Linked DNA regions of Homo sapiens: region 1 is linked to region 2. The links come from fine-mapping of genetic effects on gene expression. Tissue or cell type: visceral fat. Region 2 holds a variant in brackets; the other region holds the start of a gene. All regions are shown on one strand. Distances are from middle to middle.

Region 1 (2,918 bases), 110 kb after region 2:
ATTCCTCAACACCTTGCTTTTTTTGACTTACCAGTCATATATCTGGAGAGAAATCCATTTTAGCAAAAAATATGTGTAATATATTCTTTCTTTTTAATTTTTTTTTTCTTTTTTTGAGACCGAGTCTTCGCTTTGTTGCCCAGGCTGGAGTGCAGTGGCGCGATCTCGGCTCACGGCAAGCTCCGCCTCCCGGGTTCACGTCATTCTTCTGCCTCAGTTTCCCGAGTAGCTGGGACTACAGGCGCCCGCCACCACGCCCAGTTAATTGTATTTTTAGTAGAGATGGGGTTTCACCGTGTTAGCCAGGATGGTCTCTGTCTCCTGACCTCGTGATCCTCCCGCCTCAGCCTCCCAAAGTGCTGGGATTACAGGCGTGAGCCGATGCGCCCGGCCTCTTTTTAATTTTTTAAACTTGCAGAAGAGTTGCAAGAATAGTGCTCTTTAGTGGGCCTTCACTCGGAATCACCAACTGCTGGCGTGTGGGTGCACTGGCTTTATAGTATGTGCTTTATCAGTCCCCTTCCTTCCTGTCCTCCTGTCCCTGTGTGCTTCCTGAACCGTTTGAAAATAGGTTGCATATATCATGCCCCTGTGCCCCGAAAAACTTCAGTGTGTATTTTCTAAGAACAAGGGCATCCCCTTGCATAAACACAGTACAATCTTATCAAATTCAGAAGATTCAACATTAATAGAAAAAACTATCTGCATATTATCCATATTCAAATTTCATCAATCGTTCCCATAATGTTCTTTTATGGCAATTTTTTTTTTCTGATCCGGTATTCAGTCCGGATAGATCTAGCTCCTGAATAGAAGTGGAAATCCTCGCTCCCCGGGGTGAGGAAATTCCCTCAGGGCTCCTAGGTGTGGTGTAGTCGCTGGGAAGGGGGAATGAGTGCCCAGAGCAGGCAGGGTTGCCGTAGTGTCCACTAACTCAGTGGCGGTAAATTTTTGTGCACATGTTAAGTGTGTGTGTGTGTATGTGTAATATATATATACACAAGAGAAACTGAGTGATGGAAGAAGGAAGAGAGGTTATATGTGTAGTTCATTCTCTGGAGCCTAATCTTTCTAAAACATTTCAGACAACCCAGTAACAGTGTCTCATGGCAACATGATAGAATCTTGAAGGTGAATGGAAAGGATTATGATGTACGGAAAATCCAAGTTGGAGTGGTGCCTGATACAGGTGAAAATCAGTTCGCAGCTACTGGAAGAGAGAGGAGCATATCAATTGTTTAAAACAAAAAGCCAGCGTTAACAGGCTCAGAGAAATGAAGTTGAAAGGAATAGATGTAGCTCCTGAATAGAAGCAAAAGTCCAACGTGGTTCCATTAAAATGACTTCTCAGCCGTCTCTCCCTGCAGATGACTTCGATATCTACCACGTCCTGTGAGCCTTGATCTACTACAGCTTTCTAGATTAGCCCAGTGGTGGGAAAGTCAAGCTCAGAGGAGTCAGGGGACACACACTGCATTCAGGAGGGTTCTCCCAGGTGTGACCCATGGAAGGTCCCCGGAAAGGAAGGAAGATTGTACCTAATATCTTGGCAATAAATACATGTCCTTCCTAAAGGGTGACAGTCTAGGACCTCCTGTGGTATCAGTGAGTAAAAGTGAAAATGACCATGCTTATAACAGTGAACACTTTTCAAACTGGCATAACTGTACTTAAAAGTATGTATGAGGTAAGGTCACTGTCTCATGGAGCCCCAACTTTAGATACAATATATGGAAAGAAAAATCCGAGAGGACATAGATACCAGGCTGCCTGGCACAATACAAAAAATTGTAAGAGGAAGCTCTGTGCAGGGAGAGGAGGTCCCGTTTGGAACCCTCAGTGTTCTCTCTGTGCAGGCAGGTCTGGGCAATTCACATGAACACTCTAATCCTGTAGCTTACTGGGAAGGACATCCTAGATCAATCACTTAAAAAAATTTTTCAGTTGTCATTTAGACGAACCTGTGTCAAGTAGCTTGCATGATACCTGCATAATCCTCACAACCATCCTATCAGGCAGATGATATTATTCCTATTTTATAGATGAGAAACGGACATAGAATCCCAGATCCTATAATTAATAAACGGCATAGTTGGGATTTAAACTAAGATCTATATTTTTACAAAGTCTGTGCTCTTTCTCCTCTCCGTGTATATGTGTGTGTGTGTGTTTATATGTATATAGCTATATACATACACATATACACATATGTGTGCTCTTAAGATATATATATTCATGCTCTTAATGTGCATATATTATGCCTTCAATATATATGCCATACATACATATATATACAAATATATACATATATATCACATATATAGAGACAATCTTAATATATATAGACAATCTTAATATATGTAAATCCAAATATCTTAATGGATAGGTATGTTGGGAGAGAGGGAGGGAGGTAAACAGATAGGTGGATATTCCTTTTTTTACATACCACCACACACCCCATGAGTAAATGACTACATCATTTAAACCTGACATCTCATCTGTAAAATGGGATGTAAAAATAATCGTTCCTGCCTTACACAATTGTTGAAAGATTTAATGGGAAAATGCATGTTAAGTACTTAAATAGTGCCAGGCTCACTACCTGATAGCTATTGTTTTATTAACTATTAATAATAATAATAATAATTTAATTACTTGCCCAGCAAGTTGTCAGTTGTCTTGCTTTAGTTTTAGAAGGAAATTTTTATCTGTCTTATTTGGCTTCAGGTACTTGTTCACAGTTCTGGTCTAAGTTATGTAATTTTGTTTTTAATTTAATTTATTTATGTAATAGAGACAAGATCTCACTATGTTACCCTGGCTGGTCTCAAACTCCTGGCCTCAAGCAATCCTCCCACCTCGGCCTCCCAAAGGGCTGGGATTACAGGTGTGAGCCACTATGCTCTGCCATAATACAA
Region 2 (2,918 bases):
GGAGTCTTGCTCTGTTACCCAGGCTGGAGTGCAGTGGCACAATCTCGGCTCACTGCAACCTCTGTCTCATGGGTTCAAGCAATTCTCCTGCCTCAGCCTCCCGAGTAGCTGGGATTACAGGCATGCGCCACCATGCCCGGCTAATTTTTGTATTCTTAGTAGAAATGGGGTTTCACCATGTTGGCCAGGCTGGTCTTGAATTCCTGACCTCAGGTGATCCACCCGCCTCGGCCTCCCAAAGTGCTAGGATTACAGGTGTGAGCCACCAGGCCCGGCTGATTTTATTTTTTGTAAGAGCAGTTTGCATTTTTAGATTGGATTGGAAGAAAATAGACCAGTTGCTAAAGTTTTAGAGTGACTCTGGCAAAAAGATGAGAACCTGAAGTAAGATGTTTTTGACAATGAAGAGAAGTAGGCATATTTGAAGGGCTTAATGAGATAAATGCAATAGGATTTGGTGAATGTGAAGAAAAGGGAAGATTTGAGCATGGTAACTACATTTCCTTCTTAGGCAACTGAGTAAATTGTAATATGCTTTAGGGTCTGATGAGGAAGTATAAGAGGAAGAAGAGAAGGTCTCTGGGTGGTAGGCTAGGAATAAAAGTACATAGAATGGGTTTATTTTAGATATATTGAAGAGTTTTTCAAGGAAGTCTGTAAAAACAAAAACAAAAAACCTGACAGGCTGGATGTGATGGTTCGCGCCTGTAATCCCAGCACTTGGGGAGGTTGAGGCAGGAGGATGGTTTGAGCCTAGGAGTTTGAGACCAGCCCGGGTAGCATAGTGAGACCCTGTGTCTACCAAAAAAAAAAAAAAAAGAAAACCACACACAAAAATCTTGGCATGGTATCATGTACCTGTAGTCCCAGCTACTTAAGAGGCTGAAGCAGGAACATCATTGGAGCCGGGAGGATCGTTTGGGCCTGGGAAGTTGAGGCTGCAATAAGCCCTGATCACACCACTGCACTCCTGCCTGGGCAACAGAGCAAGACCCTGTCTCCAGAAAAAAAAACAAACAAAAAGACCTGACAGTCTTTCATATTTGCCCCTGTACTTAACCATCTCCAGTCCTTTTCATTTCTTCTTATAGATGGTGAGGTTCCATCTGGTGTCTCTTGTTTGACGATGCCAAAGAGTTTCTTTTATTTAGCATTTCATATAGTGCAGCTACACTGAACTGAACATGAATTTTCTCAGTTTGGTCTATCTGAAAATATATTTCTTTTATTTTCATGTTTGAAGAATGTTTTCACTGGATATAGAATTCTGGGTTGTGTTATTTTATTGCAGCAGGGGTTTTTTTTTTTTGTTTTTTTCTTTTTTTGAGATGGAGTCTTGCCCTGTTGCCCAGGCTAGATGGCATACAGTGGTGCGATCTCAGCTCACAGCAACCTTTGCCTCCCAGGTTCAAGTGATTCTCCTGCCTCAGCCTCCCCAGAAGCTGGGATTACAGGCACACACCACCATGCCTGGCTAATTTTCGTACTTTTAGTATAGATGGGGTTTCACCATGGTGGCTGGGCTGGTCTCCTGACCTTGTGATCTGCCTGCCTTGGCCTCCCAAAGTGCTGGAATTCCAGGCGTGAGCTGTTG[C/T]GCCCAGCCCATTGCAGCACTTTAAAGGTGTCATTATTTTATCTTGTAGCTTTTGTTTCTAATGAGAAGGCAGCTGTAATACAGTAGTTGTCTTCCTGTGTGGAATGGGTCTTTTTCTTCTCTAGCTACTTTAAATATTTTTTTTTTCTATTCCTTTGGTTTTCAGCAGCATGTCTATAATATGCCTGAGAGTGATTCTCTTTGTACTTATTCTGCTTGCGTAAATATTTGCACGTTCAAATTTTTTACCTGATTGAGAAGGTTTTTTGTTTTTTTGTTTTTTTTTTCCTTTGAGATGGAGTCTTGGTCTGTTGTCCAGGCTGGAGTGCAGTGGTGCGATCTTGGCTTACTGCAACCTCTGCCTCCCAGGTTCAAGCAATTCTCCTGCCTCAGCCATCTGAGTAGCTGGGATTACAGACGCATGCCACCATGCCTGGCTCATTTTGTATTATTAGTAGAGATGGGATTTTACCTTGATGGTCAGGGTGGTCTTGAACTCCTGACCTCGTGATTCGCCCGCCTTGGCCACCCAAAGTGCTGGGATTACAGGCGTGAGCCACTGCATTTGGCCAGGAAGTTTTTTTTTTTTAATTAACTTTTTTTTCTTTATCTGATGTATTGAATAATTTCTATTGATGTCTTCAGGTTCACTCTTATTTCTACATTCTCCATTTTGCTGTTTTGTCCATCCAGTGAATTTTCTTTTCTTTTTTTTTTTTTTTTTGAGACGGAGTGTCACTCTGTCGCCCACGCTGGAGTGCAGTGGCGCAGTCTCAGCTCACTGCAAGCTCTGCATCCTGGGTTCATGCCATTCTCCTGCCTCAGCCTCCCGAGTAGCTGGGACTACAGGTGCCTGCTGCCACACCCGGGTAGTTTTTTGTGGTTTTTTTTAGTAGAGATGGGGTTTCACCTTATTAGCCAGGATGGTCTTGATCTCCTGACCTTGTGATCTGCCCGCCTGTAATCCCAAAGTGCTGGGATTACAGGCGTGAGCCACTGCGCCCAGCCCATCCAGTGAATTTTCATTTCATACATTACATTTTTCAGTGCTAGGATTGCTATTTGATTCTTTGTTATAGTTTCCATTTTACTGCTGAGATGCACCATGTGCACTCTCATTATGACTGTCTATTCCTGTATGCCCTTCAGCATATTTATAATACCTGCATTAGAGTCTTTGTCTACTGATTCCAACATTTGCATCATTTAGGGTCTGTTTCTGGTGACTGCTTTTTTTCCTTCATCTTTTTTATATGTCTAGTATTTTTTTATTTTTTTGAGATGGTGTCTTGTTCTGTTGCCCAGGCTGGAGTGCAGTGCTGCA

Which allele goes with the higher level. Positions count from the first base shown, and alleles are read on the strand shown. Sizes are in standard deviations (SD) of each study's normalised expression.
As copies of T replace C in region 2, the expression in visceral fat of the gene that starts at base 1,199 in region 1 goes down (moderate effect, 0.49 SD a copy in GTEx).

What was found. PIP is the estimated chance that this variant, and not a neighbour inherited with it, causes the effect. A credible set is the group of variants that fine-mapping cannot tell apart.
Region 1: it holds the start of USP50, and the variant in region 2 is the best candidate, but not a certain one, in a credible set for the expression of USP50 in visceral fat (GTEx, PIP 0.70).

Annotation. Positions count from the first base shown.
Region 1 is chr15:50,544,947-50,547,864 of GRCh38, reverse strand. USP50 (ubiquitin specific peptidase 50) reads left to right here and starts at 1,199. Exons shown (of 7, transcript NM_203494.5): 1 at 1,199-1,392. The coding sequence starts at 1,340.
Region 2 is chr15:50,654,401-50,657,318 of GRCh38, reverse strand. The region is part of intron 3 of TRPM7 (transient receptor potential cation channel subfamily M member 7); the gene reads left to right. The region is part of intron 3 of LOC128092252; the gene reads left to right. Among named protein-coding and RNA genes, the nearest start is that of TRPM7, 31 kb to the left of the region's middle. The variant C/T (reference allele first, on the strand shown) is at 1,595.